Homo sapiens: one gene and its partners. The protein of the gene in region 3 purifies or fractionates together with the protein of the main gene of each other region. This does not show direct contact. Each region holds a gene or a part of one and is shown on either strand. Other genes may lie near its edges.

The links.
Region 1: the proteins of TCEAL5 (region 3) and C3orf38 purify together in Homo sapiens (affinity purification with mass spectrometry; one large-scale study listed by BioGRID and IntAct). This does not show direct contact.
Region 2: the proteins of TCEAL5 (region 3) and KLHL8 purify together in Homo sapiens (affinity purification with mass spectrometry; one large-scale study listed by BioGRID and IntAct). This does not show direct contact.

Annotation. Positions count from the first base shown.
Region 1 is NC_000003.12:88,152,959-88,156,527, forward strand, and holds part of C3orf38 (uncharacterized protein C3orf38), read left to right. Parts: intron 1-271; coding exon 272-513; intron 514-3,062; coding exon 3,063-3,569.
Region 2 is NC_000004.12:87,164,303-87,168,618, forward strand, and holds part of KLHL8 (kelch-like protein 8), read right to left. Parts: intron 3,630-4,316; exon of another isoform or gene 2,544-3,629; intron 1-2,543. UniProt on the Homo sapiens protein: Substrate-specific adapter of a BCR (BTB-CUL3-RBX1) E3 ubiquitin ligase complex required for The BCR(KLHL8) ubiquitin ligase complex mediates ubiquitination and degradation of RAPSN.
Region 3 is NC_000023.11:103,272,665-103,278,868, forward strand, and holds TCEAL5 (transcription elongation factor A protein-like 5), read right to left. Parts: upstream 4,087-6,204; 5' UTR 4,009-4,086; intron 2,679-4,008; 5' UTR 2,611-2,678; intron 1,927-2,610; 5' UTR 1,900-1,926; coding exon 1,279-1,899; 3' UTR 1,027-1,278; downstream 1-1,026. UniProt on the Homo sapiens protein: May be involved in transcriptional regulation.

The DNA of each region.
Region 1 (3,569 bases), on a different chromosome or scaffold from region 3:
AAATGTAATTCTTTAAGAGGAAATGCTAAACTTTCACTATCACTTATGGGAAGTGAACAGAAGAGATTTTAGGTAAGGGAAGTTTAAGGCATAAAGATGTTAAAAGAAAACTGACAACGGACTTCCTATTTTTTAAAAATGATGACTATCATGTAACAGCAATAATGCTGTGACGAGAGTTTATAAACATATTTGATAGAGTTTCTGCCCACCTGGCACAAATTTGTAAGTGCCTCATGATTTTTTATTAATCTTTGCAATTTCTTTCTAGATGCTGTTCATGCAATATTAGCATACAGTCAAAGTGCAGAAGAACTTCTGAGGCGTAGAAAAGTCCACCGAGAAGTTATATTTAAGTACTTGGCAACACAGGGGATTGTTATACCTCCAGCTACTGAAAAACACAATCTTATTCAGCATGCAAAAGATTACTGGCAAAAGCAACCACAACTGAAATTGAAGGAAACGCCAGAGCCAGTTACAAAGACAGAGGACATCCACCTATTTCAACAGGTAAAATAAATCTTATGGTTGTATTCTGAACCTTTGTTCTGTCTGAAACTTTGTTGATAATCCTAGATTGTGGGGAACATGGTTAATAATGTTTGTGGGGTTTTTTTATTTTTATTTTTTAAGAGATTCTTGCTCTGTTGCCCAGGCTGGAGTGCAGTGGTGTAATCATAGCTCACTGCAGCCTTGAACTTCTGGACTCAAGTGTTCTGCCCACCTCTGTCTCCTGAGTAGCTAGGGCTACAGGCATGCACCACCATGCCTGGCTAATTTTTAAAATTTTTTGGTAGGGATAGGGTCCCAACTATGTTGCCCAGGCTGGTCTTGAACTCCTGACCTCAAGTGGTCCTCCCGCCTCAGCTGGAATTACAGGCATGAGCCACCATGCCCAGCCTATTTTTTTTATATTTTATAATTTTAACTTTATTTCATATCCTATCAATCCTGAAGGAAGGAAGAGACCAGTAAAGCAACTAAGAGCAAAAATATTTCTGACATATAGTGATGCATATATAATCATCTATTGATATGTGAGAAAGTATTTTTCAATATCAGCATCATCAAATGAGGACTATTGGATTTTTAGAGAGTAAACTGCAAGGTTAATTTTAACTTTAGCTCCGTGTAATTTTTTTTCACTTTAGAAGAATTTTATTGCAAATTCTTTCTCACTTTTAAGACGTTTTTGGTATTGCAAAAATGTCATGAAAGGAACTTAAAATTTTACTTTAAAAAAAATTTTCTTTTAAGTTCCAGGGTACGTGTGCAGGTTTGTTAGATAGGTAAACATGTGCCATGGTGGTTTGCTGCGCCTATCAACCTATCACCTAGGTATGAAGCCCAGCATGCGTTAGCTATTTTTCTTGATGCCCCCGCCCCCACATTGGAACCTAAATATTTTTTATACTTTTTTTTTTTTAACTAGAAAAAGTCCTATTGTAGAAATATTCTCCAGCGGACATTGGCTGTTTCTGTTCTTTATATTATCTCCACTGTACATTTTAGATACTGCACAAATATTTAAGTGTTGCTTGAATTAACCTCTATGTAATTTGCAGATTTTTAAACTACATACCACATTTTTTGAATTAATGAGGTTTCACAGTGAGAAAGCTTTGCCTTCACACTAGGAAAGAATCTTTAAGAGCTTTCTTACTTTATGTACTGATAAGAGCATTGACTTTGAAATCATACAAATACGACTTCAAATTAGGGTCTGCAATATACTAGGTGTGTTAAATTAGGCAAATAACCAGTGCCACGCACAGTGCCCAGTGTATTAAATAGCAGGTGCTCAGTAAACCTAAGATCTCATACATCTCAGTAAAGTACTGTGTTGTGGAACACATGGATGAATGAGATCTAGTGTATCAGGTAGATTTTTACAGTAACTTTTTTTTTTTTTTTTTGAGACAAAGTCTGCCCTGTCACCCAGGCTGGAGTACAGTTGGCATGATCTCAGCTCACTGCAGCCTCCACCCTCTGGGTTCAAGCACTTCTCCTGCCTCAGCCTCCCAAGTAGCTGGAATTACAGGCATGCGCCACTACACTCAGCTAATTTTTGTGTTTTTAGTAGAGACGGGGTTTCACCATGTTGTCAAGACTGGTCTTGAACTCCTAACCTCAAGTGATCTGCCTGCCTCAGCCTCCCAAAGTGCCGGGATTACAGGCATGAACCACCACGCCCAGCTTACAGTAACATTTTCTGTGAAAAAAGAGAAATAATAGAATAAAATTAATCCCAGTTATAGAAAATAACCTGTTTCAATCACCGTAAGAGTATCTATTTAAAGACAATGAAAATGCTTGCTTATATTAACTTTATGTCATTTATATGCAAAATGCATCCATTTAAAGTGAACGTTTTGAAGGTTTTCACATATATACCTGTGATATACATATATACCTGTGAAAACACTGCCACAATCTGAGGAAACACTTACATAAATCATCATATAATTTATATATTTTTATATATGACTGTTCATACTGATTTTTTTTTTTTTTTCACACGGAGTCTCGCTCTGTTGCGCGGGCTGGAGTGCAGTGATGCTATCTTGGCTCACTGCAACCTCCACCTCCCAAGTTCAAGTGATTCTCCTGCCTCAGCCTCCTGAGTAGCTGGGAATACAGGTACACGCCACCATGCCCGGCTAATTTTTGTATTTTTAGTAGAGACGGGGTTTCACTATATTGGCCAGGCTGGTCTCAAACTCCTGACCTCACCATCCGCCTGCCTCCTCCTCCCAAAGTGCTGGGATTACAGGCGTGAGCCACCACGCCCGCCAAGTTCATACTGATTTTTAAATTGGCCTTACTAAACCTTACTCTCTTAGCTGAATTTTCAGCAATTTAAGCTGGAAATTTCTAAAATGATTTTTCTCCTCTTGAAAAAAGATTTTTACTATGCATAATGGGTTCAGCAAGTTCACATATGGTTCATTTCTCTCTGGTGTAATGGGTTCATTCAAACTTAATAGGCTAGATAGAAAAATAGATATGAAAGTTAAACCTTAGTGTTATTTTGTATTTATTTTATTTGTTTCAATCAGCAGGTGAAAGAAGATAAAAAAGCTGAAAAAGTTGATTTTCGTCGCCTAGGAGAAGAATTCTGTCATTGGTTCTTTGGACTTCTTAATTCTCAGAATCCTTTTCTAGGACCACCTCAAGATGAATGGGGACCACAGCACTTCTGGCATGATGTGAAGCTTAGGTTTTATTACAACACATCAGAACAAAATGTTATGGACTACCATGGAGCAGAAATCGTGAGCCTTCGTTTGCTGTCACTAGTAAAAGAAGAATTTCTTTTTCTCAGCCCCAACCTAGATTCACATGGACTGAAATGTGCATCTTCTCCTCATGGGCTGGTTATGGTTGGAGTTGCTGGGACTGTCCATCGAGGAAACACTTGTTTGGGCATTTTTGAACAAATTTTTGGACTCATCCGCTGCCCTTTTGTGGAGAATACTTGGAAAATCAAATTTATCAACCTGAAAATTATGGGAGAGAGTTCCCTTGCTCCTGGAACATTACCGAAACCATCTGTTAAATTTGAA
Region 2 (4,316 bases), on a different chromosome or scaffold from region 3:
TAGGATTAAAGATCTTGTAAGTAGGAAAAAAATGGAGTCCCTGTATCTAAGCAGATAATTCAGAGAAAAAGAAAAAAAAAACACAAACATTCATAAATTTGTCCTTAGCCGTCTAGAGACAAGCAAGACAGTACTGAGATTCCTTCTCTGTGTATTATATCTTAAACAGTAAGAAGGCATAAGAAAGGAATAAACTGAATCATGATTCATCCAGATAAAAGTTAAAGTTTTCCAATTGTTTCCCTTAATACTATAATCGCCATCATAATTACAGAAATGGTGGACTATGACTGAATTCTCACCAATTTTTGTCATAACAACATTTTCCTCCTACATATTCCAGAAGATAGCAGTCCTTTCTATAGCTCATTCTAGCAATGTACTTAATCTGTTCCTGAGGTTATAGAGACTGTTATTTCAACAGTGCTCCTTCCTTTAAAAACAAGTGTCTCTTTTTGAGCTCCAAGTCTAAATGAATATAATAGCTTTCTTTGGTGACAGCCTAATTTACTGAGAATAGAAAGTATTGATATTATGATCAATCTATATAAAAACAAGGTCAGAGGCCGGGCGCGGTGGCTCACGCCTGTAATCCCAGCACTTTGGGAGGCCAAGGGGGGCCGATCACGAGGTCAGGAGATCGAGACCATCCTGGCTAACACGGTGAAACCCCGTCTCTACTAAAAATACAAAAAAATTAGCTGGGCATGGTGGCGGGCGCCTGTAGTCCCAGCTACTCGGGAGGCTGAGGCAGGACAATGGCGTGAACCTGGGAGGCGGACGCTTGCAGTGAGCCGAGATTGTGCCACTGCACTCCAGCCTGGGCGACAGAGCAAGACTCTGTCTCAAAAAAAAAAAAAAAAAAAAAAAAGGTCAGAAAAAAAAATTCAAGTCAACCTCTCTAATGGGTTTAATTTTATTAAATCAATTAAAATGAAATTCACCAATTTTATCTGCATTCTTTCCATGAATTCTGACAAATGTATAGTGTCATTACCATTACAACCATTATATAAAACATTTTTTCATTATAATAAAGGGTTTGGTTTTAATTATTGCTCATGCTAATGTAGATTAAGGGTTTTTTTAAATTTTTGTTTTGTTTTGTTTTGAGACAGGGTCTGACTGTTGCCCAGACTGAAGTGCAGTAACACAATCACAGCTCACTGCACTCTCAACCTCCTGGGCTCAAGCGATCCTCCCACCTCAGCCTCCTAAGTAGCTGGAACTATAGGCATATGCCACCACTCCTGGCTAATTTTTTTTTTTTTTAAATAGAGATGAGGTCTCAACTATGTTGCTCAGTCTGGTTTTGAACTCCTGGCCTCAAGTGATCCTCCTGCCTCAGCCTCCCAAAGTGCTGGGATTACAGGGGTAATCCCTGCACCTGGCCAAGTTTTTGATAGCTATATTTTCCATAGTCTTCTTTTTCACTAGTTCCCTATCATTTCCCCAGATAATGCATAAAAATGTATTATAACAAAGAATTCAAACCAGGGATAGAAAAAGCAAAATGCAATTAGGATGTTAGACATGCCCACACCTTCAATTTTTTCTTATTCAAATCAGTTGTACCTGTTTTAAGTAGAACCTGAATGACCAAGAAGATTTTTTTAATGTTCAACCTGAATCATTCTTATTTTTACCATGTCTATTCTAATTATAAGGGTCCAAAAGATTTAAAAAGTAACAGCAACAATGTTATTCCTGTCGACATATAACACATGTCAATGCCTGTGGTAGACAGGGAGCTGTGAGAGGTAGCAATGATGTAACATAAGAACTTTGGATTCACAGATCCAAGTTCAAATTCCAGCTTTGCCACTTATTTATGCATGTGAACATGAGTAAATTATTCATTCTCTCTGAGTCTCTTGACTACATTACAGAGCTGTTGTGATAATCAGGCAAGATGTAGAGGTAAATTATGTTACTTCCCCTCTTCTTTAATACACATGAGCACTGAAAGATTCAGCATTACTTCTGCTACTTATAAGAGAATGCTGTATTGTTAGCATATAAATATCTATAAGAAATATGTTAAGTAACACAAACAATTTACATCAACATATATAAGCAAATGTGACCTTTGCTAGTGACAACCTCTCTGAATTCATTTCCTCCTCTATAAAGGAAGGTATTACTAATCACAATATAGCTAATCATGTACTGGGGAACTACAAAGTGCCGGAAACACTTTGAGATGCTTAACATGTATTATCTCTTATTCTTAAAATGATTCTGAAAGATAGACATTATTCCCGTTTCATAATCATTTAAAGCCTTGCTACTGGAAGTGTGTTGTGTGAACCTGAAACTGCATCACTATAACTTGAGAACTGTTTGAAACACAGAAACTAGGCCCCTCCTTTGCAATATAACAAGATCTCCAGATTATTCATATGCACATTATGGTCTGAGAAATCACTGATCTAATGTTCCTCCCAACTCTGCAATTCAGTAAGTCAAAAAGCAATATAGATCAATTACTGAACACTACAGCCAGGGCAAGCCTTGCAGTCCCCAAGTGGTGTGCATTCGTTCCCACAGCCCCACCAGGAAGCAACGTGCCTGCAGCCCTGAGCCGGATGACCTGGGGACCAGCAGGGCAGCCATGGTGAGGAGAGTGAGGATGCGGGGGCCGCTCCTGCCAAGAAGGCCCCGGCCAGATAAGACAAGCCCAAGACGCTGCCCTTCTTGCTGCTGGGCAGTTGGTCAGTATCCAGAGCAACGAGGCTGTGGCCCTACTCAAGACTCATGGCCTGTAACATGTCCATGGGCTTTGGTGAGAGTTGGAAGAAGCACCTCAATGGAATTCGGGAAACGTTATTTTATCAAGATAAAAGGATTTGTCGCAGAAGAAAGGAAACATTACACTGTTTATCCACCCCCACACTAAGTCTTCACCTGGACCCAGATGTGTGACATAAGAGATGTGAAGGTTGTCATCCCAGGACAGGACCCATATTAGAGACCGAATCAAGTTCATGGGCTGCTTTAGTGTTCAAAGACCTGTTCCACCTCTGCCTGGTTTGGAAAACATTTATAAAGAGCCATCTACAGATATGGTTTTATTCATCCTGGTCATGGAGATTTATCTGGGTGGGCCAAATAAGGTGTTCTCCTACTCCAGGCTGTCCTCACTGTTCTGCCCCATCAAGCCAATTTTCATAAGGAAAGAGGAGGCTGGGAGCAATTTACCAATGCGGTTGTGTCCTGGCTAAATCAGAACTCGAATGGCCTTGTCTTTCTGCTCTGGGGCTGTTATGCTAAGAAGAAGGGCAGTGCCATCCACAGGAAGCAGCACCATGTGCTGCAGATGGCTCATTCCTTCCCGTGTACAGAGGGTTCTTTGGATGTAGACAATTTTCTAAGACCAATGAGCTCCTGCAGATGTCTAGCAAGAAGCCCACTGACTGGAAGGAGCTATGATCCTGAGCTGAGGAGTAGTCTGTCTCCATTGGTGGTTATTGGGAAGCTGTTGTTAAAGTATTTGTCACTTACAAAATCAAACTGAAAAATTTCCTATTAATTCTTAAATACTCTGCATAAGGGGTAAAGCTTCCATAAAGCAGCCATGAACCAGGTTGCCCAGAAATGGCAGCTTTATATAGCCACACATAGCAAAGACTATCCTTTGGCCAAATGTCTCTACAACATGGCTTCAGCCTAAAATATGCTAACTTCTCAGAAGACAGATGAAGTCAAATGCTCACTTGGCTCTCTTTACCCCACACCCCGCCCCCCGCCTTACCTTTATGGTTAAAGGGGGAAGATATATACCCTTTAGGTAGAACCATAGTTTGATGCCTGCTGTTACTTGGTTTTGCCTAGTTAGACTTTCAACTACAAGGTATTTTAGGGGGTGTTTTTGTGTAGAAAGGCCCCCTTTTCCCAGCCTGGCAGGCATTCCAGTCTCTGCCAAGTACACTTATACTCCCTTGATCTTTCAAGGGGCCTTCAGGTCCTTCCTTGAGGGAACTATGAGGGTTTTGCAGGTTTCTAGAAATCTGGCCGTGAAATTAGGGCTCAATTTTCTGATTGTAGTAAAGGTGAAGACTCCTAAGGAACAGCGCTTGGTGTTGGCCTTAACAGACAGACAAGGGCTGAGGGATGTGAACTGAGTCTTGTTATTCTTTCGGCGTTTTGTGGAATAAGCAGTGAAATTTAGACAAGAAAGAATAGAAAAGAGAATTCTTCTTTAATGGGGGGAGGTGATTTTCTCCTAGGGTTATCCTGAGTTGGGGTTTTTAAGATAGCACAAACTGCTGCATGCTGTTTTTTATGGACTGAAATCAATTTATAATATTTTTTTC
Region 3 (6,204 bases):
TATGTATTCAGTCAGGGGCAGAACTGGGCCAAGAACTGAGGCCTTCTGACTCAATAATTAATGTAGTTACTTTTTAAGCTTCTATTATGTTCTATGGAGTAACAAAATGAGTAAGATAAACTCTTTGCTTTAAAGGGCAAGTCTAGTGGGGTAATTATAATGCCTGACAAATATATTAAGATTTTACGAAGCATTTTTCCCACATTTCGTCAGTATTAACATAACTATAAAGAGAGAAGACGGACATTCTCCACAGTTCAGAAGGGAACCTATTGGGGATTCAATTCACCAGGGACTTCAGGTGAATCTAAAGGGCTTTGTTACCTTGAAGACTCTAGCCCACCAGCAACAACTGGGGCCTTAGAGGGTGCAGGACCCTGGAGAGGGGGCACAATGCCCAACAGATGTGGCATTACCCAGGGGAAAGTGGCAACTATCTCTCAGCTTCCTGTACCTATTTTTAGGCACAGGTGAGACCTCCCTCCGCAACACTCCATACCCTCACCAACTGTCTGACTTGGTACTGTTAGTGCAGGGGAGAGGGCAGGAGCCAGCCTAACATAGGTCACAGACTCAAGCGTCACATCTGATCTACTCCACAGCCCTGGGAGGTAAGTTTCAGCCCCATTTCACACAAGGCTGTCTCTTATAGCAATGAATCTGTAGTAACTGCCAGGTTGATTCCTCCAACTTCAAGTCCCAGGGGTAATGTGAGTTTTATCTATCATTTTGTGTTCTAACAAGAATTTTGTCTCCACTGCCTTAATATGATCAATGAATAGTTCTTTTGATTGCCTAGTATTTACTATTTTCCTATTTTGTTTACCTTTTATTACTTCCTTTAAAACAAAAATAGCCTGTGCTTTTTAGATTTAAAAGAAGTACAGATGAGAAAAAGAATAATTTTCAGTCCCACCACACAAAGAAATTCATGATTTCTCTTTGATCTACTCAATTGCATAGTGTCCCCCATGTATGGATATATTATGTAAACATTTTTTTTCAGAAATGGGCTGATACTGTATACATGGTTCTGAAAACTCTTTTTTATTGTTATTTTACAATGTACCATGAACATTTATTCCATGCACATGGGTGAAAATCCTCTACTAAAAGACAGAGCACTGTAGTTGGGTCAAAAGTCTGCTGGTAACAAGAGTGACACCTAAAGGAAAGTATCAGCTTAAGGTTAAAGCACATAGGCCGGCAAATGCCTGCCAGGAAAAGCAGGACTGGCAATATTCCCATCAGAGAAATCAGAATTAAAGGCCAAAGACATTAAACATATGGGACATCTTCTAAGTCTTTCTGGCCCCTACCTCCGCCCCTCACTCCCCTCACACCCCGTTGGCCCCTTGGGGCGAATGGATCCTGTACATCTCTTTGCATCCAATGAAAACCACCCATTTTCTGTTTTTTCCTTAGCTCCTCCTGAGCCCTTGACACATCTCCACATTCTCTCATCATCTCCTCACTGCTCAGATGCCTTTCTTGTAAGTCCTCCTGAGAGTCCTTGGGGGAATCGTCCGTCCCCCTGTCGGTTTTTCTTTTTGCTTTCCGGGGCACATAATCTTCAGCCGGGCGCTTTTCGGCGGCCCGCGGCTGGCTCTCTGGCTTGGCCTGGGAGGCTGGCTTGCCCTCACTTTGTGGCTTGTCCTCACCTTCAGACTTGCCCTGCTTTTCCTGGTTTCCCTCATCTTCCAGTTGTCCCTCATCACCTGGCTCTCCCTCATCCTCTCGCTTTCCCTCGCATTCTGTCTTCCCCTCCATGTCCGGCTTTTCTTCCTCGTCTGACTTTCCTTCATCTTCTGTACTTCCCTCATCCTCTGGCTTTCCCTCACTTTCTAGGTTTCTTTCATTCTCTGGCTTTCCTTCATTTTCTTTGTAGAGCTTTTCCATGTTGAGATGTTCCCTTCTTTGCCTTTCCTAGGAGACAAAAAGAAGACACAGGACACTGAGGGCTTTGGGGGTTGAACACAGGTCCTTATAGTACTTGTCTTTCTTAACTTAGGGTTTTCCTGGCCCTATCCCATCTTCCAGGTGCACTCCCACCCTTACATTCCTTCCTTTCCTTTTCACTTTACACATGTTCACACAAGCCAACCTTACAGAAACTTCCACAGGTGCTTCTCCCTACATTTAAGGAGGATGTGCTGAGAAATGCGTAGGAGCATATTGGCCCTTAAACTTTGCTCTGGCCTTGGCTATGCCTACCCATACCAATTTTAACTGGGTAGTTCCAATTTACACGGACCTGCAGAAATCCTGGGCAGTTTTCTTCTTTTTCCCCTTGCATGCAGTTGTAAGACTTATAAAACTGCAGACAGAACAGAACCATAGCCAGTTCTCAGATTTCAGGGCTACCCTTATGTCCTCAGGGGGCATCACAGATGCTACACCTCCATTCTCTTACTTTCTTATTCTCCCCTCTATCCTCACCAGCCATAGATCACCATATCCCCTTAGGGTCTTGACAGCAGTCATGTATCCCGAAACTGCAAGAGGGAGGATTGGAGGAGGGGTGGCAGGCAGTGGCCTCCCCAACTTCTGCTCTGGCTTAAGTTACTCCTACTCCCAAGGGTCCTGGTGCAGTAGCCCTCTCCCACTGACCTGCACCGATACTGCAGGTCTTTCCTTTTCTTGTCTGGGTTAGTGCCCACAACCACAGACTTGAAGACCTGCAGAAAGACAAGAAACAGGTGGGTGAATGAGAAATTGAGAAAGTGAATGACTGGTAACTTGGACACTGGTTCTTTGGGACCGTATTTGTCAAAACTTTCCGAGCTCCTATCACCTCCTCGCCTTTTCCCTTGCATTCTCTGATTCCCCCTCCGCGCGCAGCTCTTTCTTAAGAGCCTCCATTGTTCTACTTGTGGGAAATAGGCGAGAAAGATTATTTCCAAAGCGTTTCTATGTTTCTGAATCTTCCTCCCAAATTTTTATCTCACTTTTCTGGCACGAAAATGAGTAGGGTTAGAGACAAGGATGTTCTGAAGACAGAGTGTTCTGATGCACTCAGATCTCTACATTCCAAATCCCTCACCCTAGGGTAGCCAAATAGCAGAGCCCACCACTTCTCTGAAAATGGTGATGACAGAGATAGGGGGCAGGGCAGAAATGTCCAAAACACTCCTGCCACCTCCTCCCTCCCCACATACACAGAAAGCCCACATTTTTCTGCAATGCAAGAGACAAATTATTTCCAAACCCGGTAACATTTTTGGTCTTGCTGCTACCTCATCTCAATCCTCCTACTTCAGAAGCCACTCCTCCTGGATAGGGAGCTGATCCCCAGATCAAACCTCTGTCTCCCTTTTTCTACAGCACCTCCTTCCCCTGACCCCCTTAGCCCACCGTTTCCGGCTCCAAAATGGAGGGAGGTTGGAGAAAAGACACAGGGAACTCAGGCCTGGACCCGTTGCAGGGTCCGCCCTCAGCAGCCTGGGGTCACTGACTGTGCCCGCCTCCCGCTGCCTTGCAGGGATCAGGCCGTTTTCTCGCCGTTTCGTCGCTGTTCTCTTCCCTGGTCCTCCTCCTCCTCCATCAGACATCACCCGGTCGCCGGCTTCCTAGGAGTTCCCAACTGGTACCCAATTCTCAACCCTTGACCTCTCTCGAGTTCCGCCCCCCTCCCCCCTCCCCGCCCCGCACCAAGCCCTCCATTTCTTGCACCAAATGAGTGAGCATCGGGAAAGGAGTGGAGAGAATCCAGTCCTGGACCCGCTCTGGTCTTTGCCCTCTGCCATCCCAACCACAGGGATCCACAGGCTGTGGATGGGTTCGTAGCCATCTCGGGGAAATGACTCTTTCTCACATTTCCTTCTGCCAGAAGCCTGCACTTCTCCAGGGAAATAAAAGCTGGTACCCATACCTCTTGCCCAACACAAAAAAATTTCTGCGCCAAAATGAATGGGGGTGGAACAGGGCGGTATCTAGAAAGCAGATCCGATCCTCTGTAGCCTATGTGCATTACCATCCCTACCTCAGGGGTCCCCGGCTTGTACCGACCTGCAGGGCTGTAGGGCAGTTGCCTTCTCTGTCCTTCAGTCTGAAGTCTGCCTTCCTCCACGGAAACAGGGATCTGGTACCTGGAGGAGAGGGACTTCTGCACACGTCGGCTTCAGATCACGTGAGAAAAACGTCACCAGTGGGCTCGGGTCCCTAGTTCCCCTCCCACCCGCAGAAAGTGCGTCAGGAGCCAGCCCACTTCTTCCCTTCACTAGTCTGTCCGTCTGAGCGCCCTCAGCACCCCCAACCCCGGCTTAGCTCTCTCTCTCGCCCCACAGCACGGGGCCCTGTCACTCATTTTGGTCTTTGCTAATCCCACAGGTCAAATGTGGCCCTTTCTCTGTGTAGTATGTATTTATTCTTCCGTGGTTATCAGGGAGGGACCGCACCTTCTTCTAGAGCTATTGGCCATTGGTACATCTCAGAGGAATTTTTTTTCTTTCTCTCCTTTTATCCGAAGGCACCTACTCGATCTAATTCTACACGCAGCCACTGATGTTCATTCTGCCTGTGAACCAGACCTTCTCATAATGGGTACAAGGTGGATTGTCAAGTAGGGACACAAGTAGTTAAAATAGGGGTTTTATTTTTTTAAATTTTTTTGATCTTATTTAATTCACTCTCCTCAGCATGGGTTATTCTTATAAGCACAAAATTAAATAAAGCTATTTCATTTATGAGAAAGTGTTTAAGAGAGAGAAAAACTTAAAAGATTTCAAAATTTTCTACTCAGAAGAGAGACCAAATTAGGTTCATAATATTAACTTTTGCCATATACACAAGGAATTCAATTGGCAACAAGCAAAATATACATTAGAAATTTTTCATAAATAGCTGGTTCTCTCACGTTCTATTTAACACACACACACACACACACACACACACACACACACACACACACACACATTTAATGTTCCCAAACGATTACTGAGTGCTAAATAGACTTGCTGGAATCTGATGGTTGAAAGAAAATTCAAAAATGTCTCTTTAAAAAATTTGGCTCATGGCTATTTTCATTCAAATGTTTAGCTCTAGGGGAAGGGAAGAGCTGTGAGACCAAGGCTGCAGGAGATGTGAAGGATGCAGAAATGGTCCTATCCTCCCTGCCCTGCCAAGATCAGGGGAAGGTGTTCTTCTCCACCCCCTCATATTCTAGAATTTCTCATCCCCTGCATTTCTCATCCCCAGGCACATGACTCTGTTGCTCAAGAGTCATCTGTCCAAGAATATAACTGGACAGGTGACCAAGGTGGTGATATGAGTAAATGCCTTTGGCTCCTTCCCTCCTCCCTCCCCCTAATTCCCACAGGGATAACCCAGCCCCAGCACAGAGTGGAGCATTGTTCATGCCTCTAGAAAACTAGAACAGATCTCTTCTAGACCCTTGCAGCTGAGGGTGTTCATGAGGCCTGAAGTGATTGCTGGGGTAGAGTCCCCTGCAACCTGCCTGCTCTCTGCCCTTATTCACAGTGCCTGAGTGGAAGCCTCCCTAGACCCTGTCTGTTACCTCCCGCCTAGCCTAAAAAGTGCAGTCTGGCGGGCCTCTCACCCCCAAACTCTGTATCTTCAGGGAACCCAGAGGGAGCCTAACCTTGCTGCAGGATTGCTGCCTGCCAGTCCATACTAACCTATGACTGTCTCAGCAAATTTAGGCCAGTGTCTAAGGAGTTCTGCCATGCTGTCCATATTGACCTAGACCAAGTATTCCCAATTGATGAAGTCTGTGGGCCACCTGAAAGGGCATGTAAAATTGCATATGTTTAGGAAGTAGTGGAGTATGCACACTCTTGTGAGAAGAAGATCTGTACCCTAGGAGCCTGAATAGTGTTTTGTTCTATTTGCACACCCCATTCTGTTTATCCATCATATGTTGATGAATATTTAGGCATTTTCATCTTTTAGCTGTTATAAATAATGCTGCCATATACAATCACGTATAAGTTTTTGTGTGGATGTATGTTTTTATTTTATATAAGCAAGTTGACATCATGAAAAAGAGGAAACCATAAAGGACAGAAAGAAGAAGCTACTTGACAAAGAGATAAGAAGGGGAAGACACAAATAGCAGCTGAGCCATGTTAAAGAGAGCTCATCTATTCCTTGGGTTCAGGCATTATTAAACTATGAATCCCCTAAAATTATGTTCAAACTTGTGTGTGTGTGTGTGTGTGTGTGTGTGTGTGTGGTCGTGGTTTC